Homo sapiens: one gene and its partners. The protein of the gene in region 1 purifies or fractionates together with the protein of each later gene. This does not show direct contact. Each region holds a gene or a part of one and is shown on either strand. Other genes may lie near its edges.

The links.
Region 2: the proteins of SNX11 (region 1) and DCAF10 purify together in Homo sapiens (affinity purification with mass spectrometry; 4 studies listed by BioGRID and IntAct, with this or other methods). This does not show direct contact.
Region 3: the proteins of SNX11 (region 1) and ORC3 purify together in Homo sapiens (affinity purification with mass spectrometry; 3 studies listed by BioGRID and IntAct, with this or other methods). This does not show direct contact.

Annotation. Positions count from the first base shown.
Region 1 is NC_000017.11:48,117,334-48,124,346, forward strand, and holds the end of SNX11 (sorting nexin-11), read left to right. Parts: intron 1-1,370; coding exon 1,371-1,466; intron 1,467-1,640; coding exon 1,641-1,853; intron 1,854-3,901; coding exon 3,902-4,175; 3' UTR 4,176-6,268; downstream 6,269-7,013. UniProt on the Homo sapiens protein: Phosphoinositide-binding protein involved in protein sorting and membrane trafficking in endosomes. Regulates the levels of TRPV3 by promoting its trafficking from the cell membrane to lysosome for degradation.
Region 2 is NC_000009.12:37,803,506-37,811,182, reverse strand, and holds part of DCAF10 (DDB1- and CUL4-associated factor 10), read right to left. Parts: intron 1-7,677. UniProt on the Homo sapiens protein: May function as a substrate receptor for CUL4-DDB1 E3 ubiquitin-protein ligase complex.
Region 3 is NC_000006.12:87,592,844-87,600,520, forward strand, and holds part of ORC3 (origin recognition complex subunit 3), read left to right. Parts: intron 1-1,507; exon of another isoform or gene 1,508-1,509; coding exon 1,510-1,564; intron 1,565-1,683; exon of another isoform or gene 1,684-1,770; intron 1,771-7,677. UniProt on the Homo sapiens protein: Component of the origin recognition complex (ORC) that binds origins of replication. DNA-binding is ATP-dependent. The specific DNA sequences that define origins of replication have not been identified yet.

The DNA of each region.
Region 1 (7,013 bases):
AAGCTCCGCCTCCCAGGTTCACGCCATTCTCCTGCCTCAGCCTCCCGAGTAGTTGGGACTACAGGCGCCCGCCACCACGCCCGGCTAGTTTTTTCTATTTTTTAGTTGAGATGGGGTTTCACCGTGTTAGCCAGGATGGTCTCGATTTTCTGACCTCGTGATCCCCACCCACCTCGGCCTCCCAAAGTGCTGGGATTACAGGCGTGAGCCACCGCGCCTGGCTGTTTTTTTTTTTTAAAGGAGAGATGAGGTTTCACCATGTCGCCCAAGCTGGTCTTGAACTCCTGAGCTCAAGTGATCTGCCCACCTCGGCCTCCCAAAGTGCCAGGATTACAGGCATGAACCATGGCACCAAGCTGGGAGTGGGTTTCATAAACAACATAGTGTGGCTCGGCTTGGTGGCTCACACATGTAATTCCAGTGCTTTGGGAGGTTAAGGAAGGAGGATCACTTGAGGCCAGGAGTTTGAGACCAGCCTGGGCAACAGAGCAATACTGTCTCTACAGATACATAAGTAAACAAATAAATAAATTAGGTGCACACAGTGGCACGTACCGGTAGTCATAGTTATTCTGGGAGGCTGATGCAGGAGGATTACTTCATCCCAGGAATTTGAGGCTGCGGCGAGCTATGCTCACGTTTATGCTACTGCACTCCAGCCTGGGCAACCTGGAGAGAGCAGCTTGGAAAGCAATACCTTGTCTCTAAAATCAAACAGACAAAAATAATGTATCAGCATGGGTTTTATAGTCATAGATCTGGTTCTGATATGAGCTTTGCTGCTTATTAGCTGTGTAACAGTGAGACATTTACTTAACTTCTCTGATCTGAAGTGAGTTAATATCTTTCTCACGGGGTTTTGGGATGACTAAATGAAATCATGTTTATAAAACATTTAGCACAGTCTGGCTTGACACTTGGCATGCAGTCAATGTTAGCACCACCCCTTATTAAAAGCTAATTGGGGCCAGGCACGGTGGCTCATGCCTGTAATCCCAGCACTTTGGGAGGCCGAGGCAGGCAGGGATCACGAGGTCAGATCAAGACCATCCTGGCTAACATGGTGAAACCCCGTCTCTATTAAAAATACAAAAAATTAGCTGGGTGTGGTGGCCTGCACCTGTAATCCCAGTTACTCGGGAGGCTGAGGCAGAGAACTGCTTGAACCCGGGAGGCAGACGTTGCAGTAAGCCGAGATTGTACCACTGCACTTCAGCCTGGGCGACAGAGCGAGACTCCATCTCAAAAAAAAAAAAAAAAGCTATTTGTATTGATTAGACCTCTTTTTAAGGGATTTCCTTGATCAGAGGCCGGAATGACTATCTTAGATGTTACACTTATCATGGGTGTTATATCATGTGGCTGCACAGGCCTGTTCCTGAACTTCCTGGGAAGTCAACCTTCTTCGGCACCTCAGATGAGTTCATTGAGAAGCGACGACAAGGTCTGCAGCACTTCCTTGAAAAGTGAGTGGACAGAACGGCTGGTGCTGGCCACCAAGGGTGGAGGCAGGGGTGGAGGAATGTGCCAGGCAGGATGGAGCTCCCTGCTCAGGTAGCCAGAAGTTCTTAAGAGGATGGGGAATGGAGAGCAGTTCCTCAGGGTGATGCTCTGTGTTGTGCTACCTGTGTTTTTCCCAGGGTCCTGCAGAGTGTGGTTCTCCTGTCAGACAGCCAGTTGCACCTATTCCTGCAAAGCCAGCTCTCGGTGCCTGAGATAGAAGCCTGTGTCCAGGGCCGAAGTACCATGACTGTGTCTGATGCCATTCTTCGATATGCTATGTCAAACTGTGGCTGGGCCCAGGAAGAGAGGCAGAGCTCTTCTCACCTGGCTAAAGGAGACCAGCCTAAGAGGTAACTGGAGTACTCTTTGAGATAGCAGGGGCTAGGTTTGCTATAACCTGGACCAGAGAGGTGTCCATTTGTTAGGGAAAGTAATGTCATAGCATTGGTAGCCTTTCACAACCTTTCTTGTTCTTTGGGTGCGTGGCTTTCTATCCAGGTGGGTCTGTGTTAACCCACCACTGGGTAGCAGGGGCTCCTACTGAAACCTGGGGAGAAAGAAGGGAAAGCTTTCTCATTTATTCGGTTTTTTATTCCTCCTCCCTCCCTTTTTATTTATTTATTTTTTTGTGTGGAGACGGACGCTCACTCTTTCACCCAGGCTGGAGTGCAGTGGCGTGATCTCGGCTCACTGCAACCTCTGCCTCCTGGGTTCAAGCGATTCTCCTGCCTCAGCTTCCTGAGTAGCTGGGATTACAGGCAAGTGCCACCACACCTGGCTAAGTTTTGTATTTTTAGTAGAGACGGGATTTTGCCATGTTGGCCAGGCTGGTCTCAAACACCTGACCTTAGGTGATCCGCCTGCCTCTGCCTCCCAAAGTGCTAGGATTATTGGCATAAGCCTGGCCTAATAGCTTTATTGACACACAATTTACCTGCCATAAAGTTTACCTTTTTAGATACAGTTCAGTAGTTTTTAATATAGTCACAGGGTTGTATAACTGTCAGCCACCACAGTCAATTTTAGAACATTTTCATCACCCCGAAAGAAACCCTGTACCCATGAGTAGTGACTCCCCTGTCCTTCCCTCCCCCCCAGCTCCTGGCAACCACTAGTCTACTTTCTCTGTCTATGCATTTGTCTATTTTGGACATTTACACAAATGGAGTCATATGATTTGTGGTCTTTTGTAACTGGCTTTTTTCATCTAACAATGTTTTCAAGGTTCATTTGTATTTTATCATGTGTCATTACTTCATTACTGTTTTTTTCTCTTTTTTTCCCCCATTTTTATGGCTAAATAGCAGTCCATTTATATGGTGCTATATACCACATTTTGTTTATCCATTCACTTGCATTTATCTGTTTTTTTTTTTTTTTTTTTTTTTGAGACAGAGTCTTGCTCTGTTACCCAGGCTGGAATGCAGTGGCATGATCTCGGCTCACTGCAACCTCCGCCTCCCAGGTTCAAGCAACTCTTCTGCCTCAGCCTCCCTAGTAGCTGGGATTACAGGCACCTGCCACCACACCCAGCTAAGTTTTTGTATTTTTAGTAGAGATAGGGTTTCACCATGTTGGCCAGGCTGGTCTCGAACTCCTGACCTCAGGTGATCCACCCGTTTCAGCCTCCCAAAGTGCTGGGATTACAGGTGTGAGCCATCGCACCTGGCCTTTTTTTTTTTTTTTTTTTTGAGATGGAGTCTTGCTCTGTTGCCCAGGCTGGAGTGCAGTGGCACGATTCAGCTCACTGCAAGCTCTGCCTCCCGGGTTCACACCATTCTCCTGCCTCAGCCTCCCGAGTAGCTGGGACTACAGGCGCCCGCCACCATGCCCGGCTAATTTTTTTTGTATTTTTAGTAGAGACGGGGTTTCACCGTGTTAGCCAGGATGGCCTCCATCTCCTGACCTCGTGATCTGCCCACCTCGGTCTCCCAAAGTGCTGGGATTACAGGCGTGAGCCACCACGCCCGGCCTCTTTTTTATTTTTTTAAATTGAGATAGGGTTTCACCAGGTTACCCAGGTTGGTCTCCACCTCCCAGACTCAAATAATTCACCATGCCCAGCCATTTTTTTTTTTTTTAATCGGGCAGCCTCCTGAGTCAGAACAGGCTCAGAGAGACTTCCCTTTCTGTTCATTTTTGTTTATATGTTCATACTTTTTTTTCTGAGACAGAGTCTCACTCTGTTGCCCAGGCTGAAGTGCAGTGGTGTAATCATAACTCACTGCAGCCTTGACCTCCAAGGCTCAAGCAATCTTCTGGCCTCAGCTTCCTGAGTAGTTGGGATTACAGGCACATGCCAACATCCCTGGCTAATTTATTTTTTTGTAGAGACGGAGTCTCCCTATGTTACCCAAGCTGTTCATACCTTTCTTTTCCCTTTCCCACTCTTTTCCAGTTGCTGCTTTCTTCCAAGATCGGGTAGGAGGAGCTCTCCCTCACCGCCTCCCAGTGAAGAAAAGGACCATTTAGAAGTGTGGGCTCCAGTTGTTGACTCTGAGGTTCCTTCCTTGGAAAGTCCCACTCTCCCACCCCTCTCCTCACCATTATGCTGTGATTTTGGAAGACCCAAAGAGGGAACCTCCACTCTTCAGTCTGTGAGGAGGGCTGTGGGAGGAGATCATGCTGTGCCTTTGGACCCTGGTCAGTTAGAAACAGTTTTGGAAAAGTGAGCTCTGGGTTCTGCTCTGAGATGGTCAGAGAAGATGCGGGCCAGGAGACTTACTCAGGTGGGACTGGGCACAGGGCAGGTATGTGGGAGGCTGGGCTGCTTAGTGTCTTCTAGTCACCTCTGCTTGGGCTGATTGACAGAGGTCAGTCATTACAGCCCCTTATGCCTCTTCCATGGGAACAAATACTGTGCAGATGTTTGTAAGTTAAACATAAGACACAGGGGCTGTTGCTTTTGAACAGAACCCTATATTACTCTCCTGGGATCTGAGTTTCTGCAGGTCATTTGTATGTAGGACCAGGAGTATCTCCTCAGGTGACCAGTTTTGGGGACCCGTATGTGGCAAATTCTAAGCTGCCATATTGAACATCATCCCACTGGGAGTGGTTATGTTGTATCCCCATCTTGGCTGGCTTCAGTTTTTGCTGTAGCCCTAGAGCACTTTGTTTGTGGGAGGCTGGCCTCTTGCCTACCTCCTTGCATGGACAGGGGGATGAATATTTACTTTCCCACCTCCTTGCTTTTTCTTTCACTGATACCACTGAATGGAACTGGTGCTGTGACTCCTGCTGCTGGGGATTTATGTCCCGAGACCTTAGCCTGGCTGAGTGGAGCCTGAGACCTGCACAACAGCTCATGGTCATGCATGAGAGAGAAGTGGCTGGCCACAGCCAGAGGGAACAGTAACAGCCCAGGGGCCTTTATTTTGGGAAAGGCTGTCCCGGGCTGTTACTGTCTCTTCTGGTTATAAAGCAGACATGTGGCCATCTTTTCCGCAGGGTTAGAGTGGGCTCCTTTCTTTTTGGAATCCTTTTCTTCTCCTTTGGTAGCAGCTCCCTGCCTCCAGGGCTTCCGCCACCAGCGTCTCTGCTGTGTTGCGCAGTGCAGTGGGGTGCAAGGGCTTTGTTTCTGCCTGCCTGAAAGAGAGGGCTCTGGGGATGGAGATGAGAAACAACACGCTCTCCTTCAGACAATGAGGCATTCTGTCCTCCTGCTGCCATTCTTCATCTCCACTGAGAGCCAGAGCTGGTAGGAGCCGAGTGCCACAGGCATTCTGCATTGCTCTACTCTTAGGTTTGTGTGTGTGATCCTTCCCCTCCCTGTCGCCCACTCCTCCCTCCTCTGGCTATCCTACCCTGTCTGTGGGCTCTTTTACTACCAGCCTATGCTGTGGGACTGTCATGGCATTTAGTTCAGAGTGGAGGGGCTTTGGCCTGAAATAAAATGCAAGTATTTAAGATTGTTGTTGCAATTTGTGTCTAACAAGCTGTAGCAGAGAAGGAGGGAGTGAGCGCTGGCAGTATTTCCTTTCATAAATCATGAATTTATCAGTGTGGAAATAATGCTTCAGAACTGTGCTCTGTAGCCCTCCTGCATTGTGTGTGCAGCTCAAGTTCACCACTGGAGGAAGGATTGTCTTCCAAAGAGCTGGGATCCAACTCTTCTCACAGTTCTGGGCGTGAACCTTGTTAGGTATAATTTACCTGATGCTGCTTCCATCCTCGCAGTCTGTCTGAGGTGCCAGGTGCTGAAAGAGAAATAAAGTTTGTCAACAGGCAGATGCAAAGCCCTGGCTGGTATTCATCCCTCTTTCCTGCCCGCCTCCCCTGGGTCTCTCCTTTATATGATGCAGCAGAGCAAGGCGAGGATAGAAAACCTACAGAGGCAAATCCAAAATGTCAGAAGAAGTTCATTTAAAAGGGGAAAAAAACTCCATGTGCAACCCTCACAAAAACCCGACAGATGCTAAGCTAATGGCATCCGCTCTGCCGATTGGTGGGGATGGCTCATGAATATTAATGAGCCCAATGCTCCAAATGGTGCAGCTGTGAACCCAGCTGTGCCTGAAGCTCTCTGATCTCGAAACTTCCAGACAGGAGCTGGAGGTGGTCTGTGTCAATTCCCTACTCAGCCAAAAAAACAGCAAGCTGGGTTGGCCTTCTTCTGTTTGCTCCTTTTCTTCCTGGAGTTGGTGCTCAGCAGCTAGTTCTGCCAGCCGGCTAGGCTGCTGGGACAGCAGGAGCCATTCAAAGACATGGATGTGATTTTTCTGACTCCCAGCTTTTTTAATGATCCATTAGCAGCATGCATACAACAGCACCTCAGTTAATCTAAGGCCAGGCACCATCTCTTTTCAGTCTCTCTCTTAACTGAGTATAGGCCTTGGAAGGAGAAGTCCTAGGAAGGAAAGCACTTTTCTAATAATACAAGCCTAGGGTCATCCGAAAAATAGCGCACATGAGTTTTCCTCTCCATCCAGATAGTGCCATAGGCCCCTCTTCTGTTTTGCTCTGTCCCTGCGTGTGCCCAGGTCTAGCCACTGTGGCCAGATGACCTCTATGAAAGATGGAGGATTAGCTGTGGGGAGTGGCTCATTGAGCTGTTTTGTAGGATAAAAATATTTTGTTTAGAATTTAGTTTTGAGTCAAGTTCTGTCCTGATGTAGTCACCTTTCTTCTGTCAGATACCTCCATGGCCCACATCTAGTCATCCATTACCCAGGATGACTGATTCCAAGCTTGTGGAGGTTGTTTGGTGGGAGGAAATGTGTTTGTGTGTGAGGGGGGTGTTTTCTTACATTAAAATACTAAGTTTTATAAACATAATTTTATTGGCCCTTCTCAGTGCCTAGCAAGGAAGGTAGGTTAGGTATATGCTCCTTTTTTCGTTGAGGAAACTGAGCTCAATGTTTTTGTGTGTGTTTTTTTATTTGTTTGTTTGTTTGTTTTGAGATGGGCAGCCTTTGCTGCCCAGGCTGGAGTGCAGTGGTACAATCTCGGCTCACTGCAACCTCCACCTCCCGGGGTCAAGCAGTTCTCCTGCCTCAGCCTCTAGAGTA
Region 2 (7,677 bases), on another chromosome or scaffold:
TTTTTAGATTTTTTGCAGATATGGGATCTCTCACTATGTTGCTCAGACTGGTCTCCAACTCCTGGCCTCAATTAATCTTCCCTCCTCAGCCTCCCAAAGAACTTGGATTAAAGGTGTAAGCCACGGCACTCAGCTGCATATTTTCTTCTTCCATAGAAGATTCATCTTTAATTATGGCAAGTAAGCTAGAGTAGAGGTGCCGGCAATCTGAGGTCTTCTTAATCTACGTAGGGAATGAGATTATTTGAAGCTGGCCTTTAGTCCCCATGAGTACTGTCGATTCTGGATTCACCTTTAGTCCTAGGGTATACTGGGTGAGGGGAGGGGAGTTTCAATCCCAAACCTAAATTGCGGATCCTAAATTGCAATTCTTGTAATCTCATCTATCCCACCCATGAGTCCATTAGAAATACCATTCAGAGGCCAGGCGCAGTGGCTCAAGCCTGTAATCCCAGCACTTTGGGAGGCCGAGGCAGACAGATCACCTGAGGTCAGGAGGTCGAGACCAGCCTGACCAACATGGAGAAAGCCCGTTTCTACTAAAAATACAAAAATTAGCCGGGCGTGGTGGCAGGCGCCTATAATCCTAGCTAATCCAGAGACTGAGGCAGGAGAATCGCTTGAACCCGGGAGGCAGAGGTTGCAATGAGCCAAGATTGCGCCATTGCGCTCCAGCCTGGGCAACAACAGTGAATGAAACTCTGTCTCAAAAAAAAAAAGAAAGAAAGAAAGAAAGAAATACCATTCAGCCTCATTGCTGCTGCTGCTTTTGAGATTGACAGATGTCTCTCAGAGAAGCGAGCTCAAATGCTGGGCTCACATCACTGGCTTTCCTATTTTTTAGAACTTGACCCTGCAATTTCTTCATTTCCCTGATAATGCTCTAATCCCCTCACACATAAGCTTTCTATATCTTACATTAAATATTTAATATTTTCTCTAGCTTTTCTGATTATTCTCAGTTGGAAGTTTGGTCCAAACAATCTACCTCTTGCATATAAAATTGTCCCCCCAACTTTTTTTTTTTTTTAAGATGGAGTTTCGCTCTCGTTGCCCAGGCTGGAGTGCAGTGGCGCAATCTCAGCTCACTGCAACCTCCGCCTCCCAGGTTCAAGTGATTCTCCTGTCTCAGCCTCCTGAGTGGCTGGGATTACAGGCGTTTGCCACCATGCCCAGCTACTTTTTTGTATTTTTAGTAGAGATGGGGTTTCACCATGTTAGCCAGGCTGGTCTCAAACTCCTGACCTCAGGTGATCCAGCCGCCTTGGCCTCCCAAAATGCTGGGATTACAGGCGTGAGCCACCGCGCACGGCCGCCCCGCTCCCCCTAACCCTTTTATTTTTTTAATTTGAGACAGAGTTTCGCTCTTTTGCCCAGGCTGGAGTGAAGTGGCACAGTCTTGGCTCACTGCAACCTCCGCCCCTCGGGTTCAAGCGATTCTCCTGCCTCAGCCTCCGGAGTAGCCGGGATTATAGGCGCCCACCACCATGCCTGGCTAATTTTTTTATTTTGAGTAGAGTCAGGGCTTCGCCTGTTAGCCAGGCTGGTCTCGAACTCCTGACCTCAGGTGATCCACCCGCCTCGGCCTCCCAAAGTGCTAGGATTACAGGTGTGAGCCACTGTGCCGACCTATGTCCCTCTTTTTATTCTGAATATTATCTGTGCATTTTCTTAGTACCATGGATGTTTTTCATTTTTATAAGTGTTTTCAAAGACAAAACTTTGTCCCTATTCAGTATTTCTGATGGTTTTTAAAATTTCACTAATTTCTACCTTTTTTTTTTTTTTACTATATTTCCTTCTGCTCTCTTTAGATTGATTTTCCTATTATTTGCAGATAACTTTGCTATTCTCTTTCATGAGATGAATACTTAGCTCATTAATTTTCCTTATCAGTTTATTAAAGACTATAATTTTCCTACTAAGTACAGCTTTACTTGTATCCCACAAGTTTTGAGACATATGATTTCATTATCATTTAGTTCTGAACATTTCTAATTTCCATTATAATTTCCCCTTTGACCCATGAATTTATCAATTCTTTTTGAAAATGAATGAGACTTTTCTAGTTATCTTTTTTTTTTTTTTTCTTTGAGACAGAGTCTCATTCTGTCACCCAGGCTAGAATGCAGTGGCAACCTCAAACTCTGAAGCTCAAGCAGTCCTCCTGCCTCACCTTCCTGGGTAGCTAGGACCACAGGCACATGCCACCACACCAGGCTAATTTTTAAATTTTTGTAGACAGTCTTTCTTCCTTGCCCAGGCTGGTCTTGAACTCCTGCCAGATCCTCCCACCTCAGTTTTCCAAAGTGCTGGGATTACAAGTGTGACCCACTGTGCCAGGTCTCTGGTTATCTTTTTAATTATACTTGTCTCTTGACTTCCAAAAATATAAAATATATAATATATATTATATAAATATATATTTTATGTATGTATTTTTATATATTTTTATATATAAATTTTATATATAAATATAAATATATAAATATATATTTATATTTTATATTATATAATATATTTATATTTTATATTATATATTTTTATATTATATTATATAAATATATTATATTTTTATATTATATTATATAAATATATTTTATATTATATATTATGTATTATATATTTTATATATTACATATATTATATATTTATATAATATATTATATAAATATATGTTTTATATATTTATATATTATATAAATATATATTTTATATTATATATAATATACTTTTACATAATATAATATATATATTTTTCTTGAGACAGGGTCTCATTCTGTCGCCCAGGCTGTCGCCCAGGCTGGAGTGCAGTGGCGCGATTTTGGCTCACTGCAACCTCTGCTTCCGGGGTTCAAGTGATCCTCCCACCTCAGCCTCCTGAGTAGCTAGGACTATAGGCATGAGCCCCACAACTGGCTAATTTTTGTATTTTTTGTAAGGATGGTCTGGAACTCCCAGGCTCAAGTGATCCACCTGCCTCAGCCTCCCAAAGTGTTGGGATCACAGGTATGAACCACCATGCCAGCTAGTTATCTTTTTATTTACTTCTAGTGATCACATTGTGGTGAGAAACTGTATTCGGTATGATACCAATCTTTTGAAACTTGTGGTCTCATATGTGAAAATTTTATAACTGTTCCTTGTGTGTTTGAAAAATATAAGGATGAAGCGGCTGTTACATACAGTTAAGTGTGATATTCAAAGAGGTTAAAAATTCAGGCCAGGCACAGTGGTTCACACTTATAATCCCAGCTCTTTGGGAGGCTGAGGTGGGTGGATCACCTGAGGTCAGGAGTTCAAGACCAGCCTGACTAACATGGTGAAACCTCATCTCTACTAAAAATACAAAATTAGCCGAGCGTGGTGGTGCATGCCTGTAATCCCGGCTACTTGGGAGGCTGAGGCAGGAGAATTGCTTGAACCTGGGAGCTGGAGGTTGCATTCAGGCAAGATCGCGCCATTGCAGTCCAGCCTGGACAACAAGAGTGAAACTCTGTCTCAAAAAAAAAAAAAAAAAAAAAGAAAAGAAAAGAAAATTCAGTGGTAATATAAATTAACATAAATAAAATTTAAAAACATTTTCTAAATAAATTAACCTATATAGATTATAAAAATGCTCACCAGGTGATAACCATTGTAGCTCAAATTGTTCATTAAATCATTCTAGTAATTTTCAATCATTTATTAATTTTTGGAAATTGTAGCCATAATCTTTTATTTGACACAGATGCCCTTGTCTGAACCATGAATTGACATAGGAAACTAGATAAAGCCCTTCTAAGAATGTCCACATTAAATTTATAGTCATTAAATAACTTGTAGTCATGATACGTTAAAAAAAATCACACTTTTTAAAATTTTTTGTAGAGACAAGGTCTCCCTATGTTGCCCCAGCTGGTCTTGAACTCGAGCTCAAGCAATCCTCCACCTTCAGCCTCCCAAAGTGCTAGGATTATAGGCATGAGCTGCCATACCTGGCCTAAAAAAAAGAAATCACTCTTAACATCAACAGAATTGTTCATGGGAGCTGAATCCTCTTTTTGGCTTTTGCTGAAGTAACAGTAAGTATATTTTAAAATGTTTTTAGCCCTTCAAATGCTTGCTGTTAGTTTCATATAGTCAATATTTGTTTAAATATATTAATAACTAAGTCACAAAAATAATTTATTGATATACTTAATTATATTAAACCTAATCCCTCAGTCCAGGTGAGAGGTAACGTAACACAGCAGTTAACAGCATACACCAAGGTACAGAACCTTCATTTAATAAACTTTCTGCTTCTTAATTCCCCCAACTAAATGTGTCTGGTAGACAGAAAAAGATGTATTTTGGTAGTCATTTTCATTTATAACATGAGTGTCATTAATGCCTACTGTAGGCAGGTATTCATTGGGTGTTGGCACACTTATCCTATCTAAATAATGGGGAAATTAAACAAGAATGATAAAACTAAGGATGTGCATCCCAGAAGTTATTCATCCATAAACCATCCCCACAGGCCTCGATCATCTGCTGTAGATTCTATCCTGCCATGGGAATGTATACTGTGCCAAGAGAATTAATATATTTTGATGGCAACTGCGGTAGTACAGTACTATTACTCTCATTTGACTGCTCTTCTTTCTGGATCTCCCGGGGCTGTAGTTCCCAAAGGGGCCATGTGAGAGTGATATGAGAAAGGTAGGCAGCCCTACTCTTAGGGAAGCCAGATGGTCACTGGGCCTATGGATTTTTTTGTGTGTTGGAGGTTGCCAGGCACGGGTGAGGAGTAATTAGAATGGCTGCTGCCCTGTAGTTCTCCAGTGAGATGTTTGCTGACAGTCTCTTGCTGTCCTAGTTCTTAACTCTTTAGTTGCTATATAATTGGTTACTATAGGAAGTCCCAAGGAAGGCGATGAAGCATTAAGATGACACTTAACAGGCTTGGGACAGTAACTGTTCAACCACTATGGACATATCAATATTTTAACAACTAGTATAGCTGAACCAGTATCAGCTGAATAGCAGGCCTGAATGTAGTCTACGAATGCCATTAAGAGTAAGATTTTAAGAGGTACTGTTCTTTTATTTATTTTTTAATTTTATTTTATTTTTTGCAAGACAGGGTCTCTGTTGCCCAGGCTGGAGTGCAGTGGCACAATCCTGGTTCACTGCAGCCTCCACCTTCCGAGCTCAAGTGGTCCTCCTGCCTCAGCCACCTGAGTAGCTGGGACAAAGGGACACGTCACCACAACCAGCTAATTTTTGTACTTTTTGTAGAGACAGGGTCTCCTTATGTTGCCCAGGGTGGTCTCAAACTCCTGGGCTCAAGTGATCCACCTGCCTTGGCTTCCCAAAATGTTGGGATTGTAGGCGTGAGCCACTGCGCCAAGCTACTCTTTGTCTTTTAATTAGAATATTTAGTACCTTATAGTTATTGCAACTAGTAATGTTTGGATTTATTTTCAGCTATTCTTTGTGCTTTTTATTTATTATATCTTGTCTTTTTTTCTTTTCCTTTCTTGCCTTCTTTTGGAATTTTTTTCTCATTCTGTACTTTTTCTTGTACTAGTCTGGAAATTATAATCTTTCTTGTCTTTTGGTTCCTTGAAAATTTTAAATACCTATTAAAGCCCAAAGTTAACATATATTATTATCCCCCCAAATACATAAAAACTTAGAATGTCACTTATCATTTATTTTTATTTTACTTTGAGATGGAGTCTCACTCTGTCACCCAGGCTGGAGTGCAGTGATGTGATCTCCGCTCACTGCAACCTCTGCCTCCCAGGTTCAAGTGATTTTCCTGCCTCAGCCTCCCAAGTAGCTGAGATTACAGGTGTATGCCACCACACCAGGCTAATTTTTTTGTATTTTTAGTAGAGACAGGGTTTCATCAGGTTGGCCAGGCTGGTCTCACACTCCTGACCTCAAGTGATCCGCCCGCCTCGGCCTCCCAAAGTGCTGGGATTACAGGCATAAACCACCACACCCGGCCTCACTTCATAATTTATATGCTATTATTGTCTTCTATTTTTGTTCCATCTCTATTAATCCCAAAAGACATTATCAGATTAACATGTACATACATATTTAACACTTTTTGTTCTTCATTCCTTCTAGCTTCTCAGACCTTCCGTTTGAAAATAATTTCCTTCTCTCTGAACTTAGAATTCCTTTATTGGAGGTCTGCTGGCAAACTTACTCAGCTTTCCTTGTCTGAATATGTATTTATTTCATCTTTGTTCTTGGCAAGGACAAAGAACCTATGTTTGTTGGGTATAAATCTAGACTGAGGGTTTTTTCCTAGCATATTGAAATAATTACCACTGTCTCTATATTTATATTATGGTTGAAGACTAATTGGCTATCACTCTCATAGTTGCTCCTTTGAGGCCTTTTTTCTCTACTTTTTTTTTTTTAAATGGAGTTTTGCTCTTGTTGCCCAGGCTGGAGTGCAGTGGTACGGTCTTGGCTCACCGCAAGCTCTACCTCCCAAGTTCAAGCGATTCTCCTGCCTCAGCCTCCTGAGTAGCTGGGATTACAGGCATGCACCACCACGCTCGGCTAGTTTTGTATTTTTAGTAGAGACAGGGTTTCTCCATGTTGGTCAGGCTGGTCTCGAACTCCCAACCTCAGGTGATCCACCCACCTCAGCCTCCGAAAGTGCTGGGATTACAGGCGTGAGCCACCGTACCCGGCCCCTTTTTCCTCTGTCTTTTAAGATTTTATATTTATTGTCCCACAGTTTCACTACAATATGTCTAGAAAGAATTCTTGCTTGGGTTTGTTGGGCTTCTTAAATCATGGCTTGGTGCCTTTCTTCAATTCTGGAAAGTTCTCAGCTATTATGTCTTCAAATAGTCCCCCTTACACCATATGATATGCTTATATGGTATAAGCGTACCATATAGTTAGCCAGAGTTCCTGAAGAAACTGGGACTATTTTCTTTAGGAACTCTGGCTAACTATATGGTATGCTTTTTCTCTCTATGCTCTGTGTTACTAAATCTCCTTTTCATATTTTCAATCTCTGTGTTTTCCAGGTCTGTATTCTAGTTAGTTTCTTTGCTTCTATTTTCCAATATGTGAATTATCTCTATAGCTGTGCCTAATGTGTTCTCATGGAGGACAGTTTGACAGGGTCTGACATACTATAATTTATTAACATTATCAATTTTACTTTTTCAAAATGTCATTTTAGAAGGTGATACACTTATTTTGACAATGTTTCTATCACTTAAAACATTTTTTGAATTCTTTAGAAAATACCTTCTAACCCATTTATCTTTTTTATTGCCAAATTCCTTATATTGTGGTCTCTATTAAATTCATAATTTTAATTTTTACATTCTGTGTCACCCCCTCCTTCTCTGTATTGAGAAGTCCTTGAGGGTGACAGTGGTTATGCTACCTGGTAAGCTGATTTAACTCATATTTAACTGAAAGATATGAGAAATTACCTCATTTAACACGGATATGTCATCTATCTGTAAAATTACTTTAAGTCCTACACAAATGTAGGGCATACTAGATGAAGTAAGAAGACTGAAAAATTAAAACACTGAAGTATTTTCACTCATCACCCTGATAAACATGAAAAAGAATGGCAGTATGCAGTGTTGCCAAGGGTATGAGGAGACAGGCATGTGTCTAGAATGTAGGAATCAGAATATAGTAATGAGAATTAGT
Region 3 (7,677 bases), on another chromosome or scaffold:
AGCACTTTGGGAGGCCGAGGCGGATGGATCACGAGATCAGGAGTGCGAGACCAGCCTGGCCAACATAGTGAAACCCCGTCTCTACTAAAAATACAATAAATTAGCCAGGCATGGTGGTGGGCACCTGTCATCCCAGCTACTCAGGAGGCTGAGGCAGGAGAATGGCTTGAACCCGGGAGGCAAAGGTTGCAGTGAGCCAGGATCGCACCATTGCACTCCAGCCTGGACGACAGAGCGAGACTCTGTCTCAAAAAAACAAACAAACAAACAAAAAAAAACTATAAGCTATCCATCATGTATGACTTTAGAATTGGTAGAATAGACTAGGACCACTAACTTGGGGGTGATCTACCACTGGTCAAACAATAATATGAAACTAAACATAGCTGGGAAATTACCAGGACAGTTATTTGGCAAGCATTTATTCATTCCATATTCTGATTGCCTAATATGTATGTTAGCACTATTCCAAACATTGGAGAAACAATTATAAATAAAATACAGTTTGTGCTTGAAGGCACTCACAGTCTACTCAGGGAGACACACCCATAAACAACTACGATATACAATTAAAGTGACTTAAAACAATGCAAAATAAAGATGTTCAAGTACTGAGAGATCTCGAGGAAAGGAGAATTTCTGGCTAGAGAATTGTGAAAGGTTTCCTGAAGGAGATGAGTGTTGAGTCAAACTTTAATGGATAAATGAGTAGGCATTTATCAGATGAAGAGAAGTATGTAGAGTGAAACAGCTGCAATTATCTATTTACTACTAAGGTTATAGATACTTCGAGTTTAAATAAGTTTCGGGTTGGGAGAACATCACTATTTTCAACCTTTTTAATCTTCATTTTTATTTATTTATTTTTTGAGACAGAGCTTCGCTCTTTGTTGCCCAGGCTGGAGTGCAATGGCACGATCTCAGCCCACTGCAGCCTCCATCTCCAGGGTTCAAGTGATTCTTCTGTCTGAGCCTCCCGAGTAGCTGGGATTACAGGCTCACACCAACACGCCTGGCTAATTTTTGCATTTTTAGTAGAGACAGGATTTCACCATGTTGGCCAGGCTGGTCTCAAACTCCTGACCTTGTGATCCACCCGCCTTGGCCTCCCAGAGTGCTGGGATTACAGGCATGAGCCACTGTGCCCAGCCCATTTTAATGTGTAGTATTAATTCCTTTAAGTTTATGAAAATGGAACCTTTCTGGGCTTAAATTTAATCAGCTTTTATTTTCTTTGTCTACCTCTTAGATCAGGTGTCAAAGAGCAAAATCAAAAATGGGCATCTCATGGGAGGGAGGGGAGAGAGTAGATAGTCCCCCTTGTTGTTTTAGAATTTTCCTTCTATAGGTCAGAGAGAAGTGATGTGATTTCTTAGAACCTGAAAGAAATGTGTTCTCTCCCCTAACATCTTTTTTTAAAAAAGTGCTTACCCATAAAATATTTGGTTAATCAGATTTCTCTGCTCCTTGGCTACTTTGACTTTATGCTTTTCGTCTTTCTTTTTATAGGGTTGCTTTGTTTTTAAGCCAAACTCCAAAAAGAGAAAGATCTCTCTGCCAATAGGTAAGGTGTCTGAATATTAAATTTTTTATTCCCTACCTTCTTAAACTATTAGGAACTAACCCTAATTGAATTTAGTAATTCTCTTGTCTAACCTTGGCTTACTTGCCATGTTGATGTAGCATTTATGTTCCAAGGCATTGGTCAAAGAGATAAGAGGACACCCCAGGGCTCTAATTGAAAAGAGAATCCAATTACACCTTCCAAAGGTAAGTTGGAAGCAAATTTCCTTCAAAGGATATGCTGCTATTCTTTAAAAGAGATTGTCTTTTTGATTACTTCTCTGCCATTGTTTTTTTATCTACAACTTTAGAAATGAAAGTGAGTTTCTGCTAGAGAAACATTTTGATCCTTGATGAAGTAATCAAAACAATAAAGGCTGACTGGCAACCCAGATTTCTAATGATGGGGGAAATGTTATTTAGAAAATAAAATGATAATTGGTAACATAAGGAAAACCTAAGAAAGAATGATTATAAATTTGTATATATTTTCTAATGAAAATTGTATAAAAATTATTTTTGAGTTAAAATACAATATTCATGGGGAGACTTAAATATGCTTAAAAATTTTGATGTGATATTCCATTTTATGAATAAACTTGGCAAAATAAATTAAAGCAATCATCTATCTGTATGGAGCATTTTAGAACTTAGGGCTTAGTAACTACATGTGTGTTAGAATACTGCATGTTCTAACTTAGGGATAAATGCTGTGCACATCAATACATGCTGAGAAAAAAGCCCAAGGTCTTGGATCTCTTACAGTAATTCTACCTGCTAGAGCACAAAGTTATGGAATCACCTGGACTATAAGTAAAGGAATTGGAGTGTGATCCTGAGCCTGACCAGCTCTATGGCTTTGGCCCTGCTGTTTAACCTTTCCCTAAGTCTCTTCATCTGTAAAATGAGCAACTATACTCACTTATCACTAAGATTTCTCCCTATTCTCATTCTATCTCTCTAAGAGCTAACATGTAGTGCTTTGTAAGACTATCATAAATACCATGTGAATAAATTTGTGTTATTATGGATTGTTACCACCTTGGCCTTATAGTTTGTGTTCCAAGACTCCTATCTCTCACTAGCCTGAGGGAAGGGAAAAAGCTGAGAATGAGTAGCAGAAGACTTTCTACTCTCACAATGGCTACATATTTCCAAGTGGCCCAGATTTCCTCTCTTAGTCTTCACATCCTTTCTACCAGTTTGCACCCTCCATCATCTCTCGGAAGCACCAGGGTCCCACACAGTTCTCAATCACTCTTCATTTCATAAAACAAATTTGTTAAATTATTGAGTTTTAATCACTCATAGACACACATACTCATGATATTAAGGGAGTGGATTTTTATCACTCACTCAGACATACGCATACTCACACACTCATATACCCATGTGTGTAAGAGAGGAAAGACATTTCTTTTGGTTTTGTTTGTTGATTTATTTTAGAGACAGGGTCTCAGTCTGTCACCCAGGCTTCAGTTCGGCGGCCTGATCATAGCTCACTTCAGCCTTGAAAACTCCTGGGCTTAAATGATCCTCCCACCTCAGCCTCCCAAGTACCTGGGACTACAGGCATGCGCTACGACGCCTGGCTAATTATTTTTTAAAATTTTTTGTAGAGACAGGGTCTCACTTTGTTGCCCAGGTTGGTCCTGAATTCCAGGGCTCAAGTGATCCTCCCACCTCAGACCTCAAAGTGCTGGGATTACAGGTGTGAGCCACTGTGCCCAGCCTAATTTGTTTGTTTGTTTTTGTTTTTTTTTTTTGAGACGGAGTCTAGCTCTCAGCATGATCTCAGCTCACTGCAACCTCCGCCTCCCAGGTTCAAGCGATTCTCCTGCCTCAGTCTCCCGAGTAGCTGGGACTACAGGCATGCGCCACAATGCCTGGCTAATTTTTGTATTTTTTAGTAGAGATCGGGTTTCACTATGTTGGCCAGGCTGATCTCGAACTCCCGGCCTTGTGATCTGCCCACCTCAGCCTTCCAAAGTGCTAGGATTACAGGTGTGAGTCACTGTGCTCGGCTGTTTGTTTTTTTGTTGTTTTTTTTTTTTTAAGGCAAAAACAACACAGGTTGTGTTAAAGTCCCAGTGGTTTCCTGGGATGAAGTAGGGGGAATTAACTGCAAAAAGGCAAGAGGGAACTTTCTGGAGTGATGGAAATGTTCTCTGTTGACAGAGTGGTTATGTAAGTATATACCTGGGTCAAACTGTTAAAATGGTTGTGTTTAATTATTTGTAAATTATACCTCAATAAAATTCAATTAATAAAAAAAGATACTGTCTTCACTTTTTTCATTTATATCCTGATACCTGTTTAGTGATCAAATTAAGAAGACTTGACTTCTTCAATCAAATCCAGTATTACTATCAGAATGTATTTATTGCACCGGTTCTCAATCATAGCTTCACATTAGAATCATTTGGGGAACTTTGAAAAGTCTTATTTTAATATAATTGTAGATGCACATATAATTACAGGTAATACTCTTCCACCAGTAAGTACCCTACGACCAGTTATCCCCAGTGGCAGTATCTTACATAACTATAGTACAGTGTCACAATTAAGAAACTGATATTAATACAATCTAGTGACCTTATTCAATTCCAACTTGTGGGACTTTGAAAAAATGCAGGGTGAGAGTTCCTTATCCCAAATCTTGGGACCAGAAGTGTTTTGGTTATTGGAATTTTTTCAGATTTTGAAATATATACCTGTATATAATGAGATAATCTTGGGAATGAGACCCAAGTCTAAAAATAAAATTCATTCATGTTTCATATACACCTTAACCACATAGCCTGAAACGAATTTTACATAATATTTTAAATAATATTGTGCATGAAACAAAGTTTTGGCTGTGTTTTGACTGCGACCTGTCACTTGAGGTGAGATATGGAATTTTCCACTTGTGGCATCATGTTGGTACTCAAAAAGTTTCAGATTCTGGAGGATTTCAGATTTTTGGATTAGAGATGCTCAACCTGTGCCAATGCTAAGACCCTAACCCGGATCAATTGAATTAGAATCTCAAGAGTGGGGCCTAAGTGTTAGAATTTTTCAAAAGCTCCCCACAGGGTTATTGAGTATATACATTCCATATTCAGCACTGTGAAAATTAATTCCAGTGGAAAAATTATGATATGGAATTAAGCATACCCATGTACTAGTTTTGAATTGAAAAAATGAACTATGCCACTGTTTGACTAAGGAAATAAATGGATAACTTGAATATATAGAATAGGATTTTTTTTAAGTAATGATATATATATATACACACACACACACACACACACACACACACATATATATATAATTTTTTTTTAAAATAGAGATGGGATCTTACTATGTTGCCCAGGCTGGTCCTGAACTCCTGAGTTCAAGTGATCCTCCCACCTTGGCCTCCCAAAGTGCTGGGATTACAGGCGTGAGTCACCATGCCTGGCCACACATTTCTTTAATGTTGCAGATTGCTCAACTTACTAGAAATAGGTCAGAGAAAATTAAAGACTTGTTCCCCCATTATCATTAGGGACACATAGCATGCAGTGACATCTAATATCATCACCAATGTAATTATAACTAATACAGTTGTTAATATTTCTTGGATGTTTACAGTGTGCCAGACTGTTTTGTTTTTCAAGACAAGATCTCACTCTGTCACCCAGGCTGGAGTGCAGTGGCACAATCATAGTCCACTGCAAACTTGAGCTCCTGGGCTCCGGGAATCCTCCTGCCTTAGCCTCAGCTAGGACTACAGGCTCATGTCACCTTGCTTGCTAATTTATTTATTTTTTTTTTAAGGTGAGATCTCACTTTGTTGTCCAGGCTGGTCTCAAATCCTGAGCTCAAGCAGTCCACCTGCCTTGGCCTCCCAAAGCGCTGGGATTATAGACCCAGACTGTTTCAATCATTTTATATGTGTTAATTTGATTAATCCCCTCAGCAAACTACAAGGAATGTATTATCGCCATTGAAATATATAAGGATACTTAGACATATAACTTTCTCAATGTTATAATGTTAGTAAATGATAGAGCTAGGATTTGAACCCAACCTGTCTGATTCCAGAGCTCATGATTTAACCATAGCTTAATACTGCCTCTCATTATATAAGGCCAAGTTTCTATTTAGAACTTTTTGTATTGAATTTAAGCTACAACTTATTAGGATTGGTTTATAGTTTTTAGTACTAGTAAACCTGATGTGTATAATTGTATGATTTGAATTTTGCTTTAGAAGTTTGCTAGGCTTTTTTTTTTTTTTCATTATGTGGCTCTAAGACCAACGGGTAGTGTTATAATACGAAAATCTTTGAGGAATTGACCCTGATTATAAGGCAGATGGAGCAGGAATGAGGGAAACATACCCAGACTTTAACATTTGCCTTCACTGGCTTCAGTTGTTGAAACAGATTGACTGAAGAAGTAGGAAGATGCTCTGCATTTTGCCCACCATCTGTCCCCTGACTGAAGACACTTGGGCACGTAATTAAGACTGGTAACTCTCCCTCTCCTCAGTATTCTGTGGATGACTGCATATCCAGCAAAACAACTGGATAGGAACTGGAGAGAGAGAGACTGGCAGCAGCACTGGCACTGTAGGAGATACCCACACTGAAGTATAGCACTGTGAATAGGAGCCGAGGCAGGTAGAAACCTGGCAACAGTGAGAGCTTATATTCTTCAGTGTAGTTTTTAAATTTACCTACCTGATCTGTAACAGACTGAGAGAAGTCATGGTAACAGTTTAAAGTATCCTACTGCTGTGTTTCCCAGTTTCTAAGAGGTTTTTCATGTGTATTTTGATGCGGCATTATTCTGCACATAAAAATTGTGTCTTGATTTGCCACTTTCATGTTATGCTATGATTTTACCTATTAATGTAAAGTGACTATTTTTGTTCTTTTTAAAGCTACCTTGTTGTTCTGCTTTGTCTCTTTTTTTTATTATTTATTTATTTATTTATTTATTTATTTTGAGGCAAGGTTTTGCTCTGTCGCCCAGGCTGGAGTGTAGTGGCACAATTTCAGCTCACTGCAACCTCTGCCTCCCAGGTTCAGGTGATTCTCCTGCCTCAGCCTCCTGAGTACCTGGGACTACAGGTGTATGCCACCACGCCCGGCTAATTTTTGTATTTTTAGCAGAGATGGGGTTTCACCATGTTGGCCAGGGTGGTCTCCAAGTCCTGAGCTAATGAACCGCCCACCTTGGCCTCCCAAAGCGCTGGGATTACAGGCATGTGCCACCACGCTGGCCTGCTTTGTCTCTTAATAATAGTGTCCTCTGGCTAGGTGGGGTGATGTACGCCTGTAATACCAGCACTTTGGGAGGCCAAGGTGGGCAGATCACTTGAGGTCAGGTGTTCAAGACCAGCCTGGCCAATGTGGTGAAACCCCGTCTCTGCTAAAAATATAATTAGCCAGATGTGGTCGCGGGCGCCTGTAGTCCCAGCTACTCGGGAGGCTGAGGCAGGAGAATCACTTGGACCTGGGAGGCGGAGGTTGCAGTAAGCTGAGATCTCACCACTTCACTCCAGCCTGGGCAACAGAGCGAGACCCTGTCTCAAATAATAGTAATAGTAATAATAGTGTCTCCTTGCTTTCTTTTTTTGTTGGCATTTTAATTCTATAACCTTGTCTGCCACTTTACCGTACGATGACTTCAATGTATTCCAAGGCTTTTGATAAAATTAAAAATCAATAGTTGCTAAAAACTCTGAGTTAACTATGATTAGGAGAGAAGTTCCTTAACATGAAGTGAATTTATATTCCAAACTATCAGTTAACATTAAAACTTGGTGGTAGATTATTAGCAGCAGAAATTTAACGTGAACACTCCAGTTGTTACAATAAAATACGTAGCAGTAAACAACAAGAAATATGAGGGAAAGTAGAAAACTATAAGGAATCTAAAATATTTGATTAAAAAAAGAGACCTGTGATATTGGGGTTGGGGATTTTTTAACATATTAAAGATGGGATTTTTCCCCAAATCAGTCTATGGATTTGATTTTATCTAGTCAAATACCAGTACAACTAGTTTTGAGAAGTGACAGGATTACTGTAAAATTAATTTGAAGAAGTGGCTTAAATTTTTTTGAAAGAGAATAACA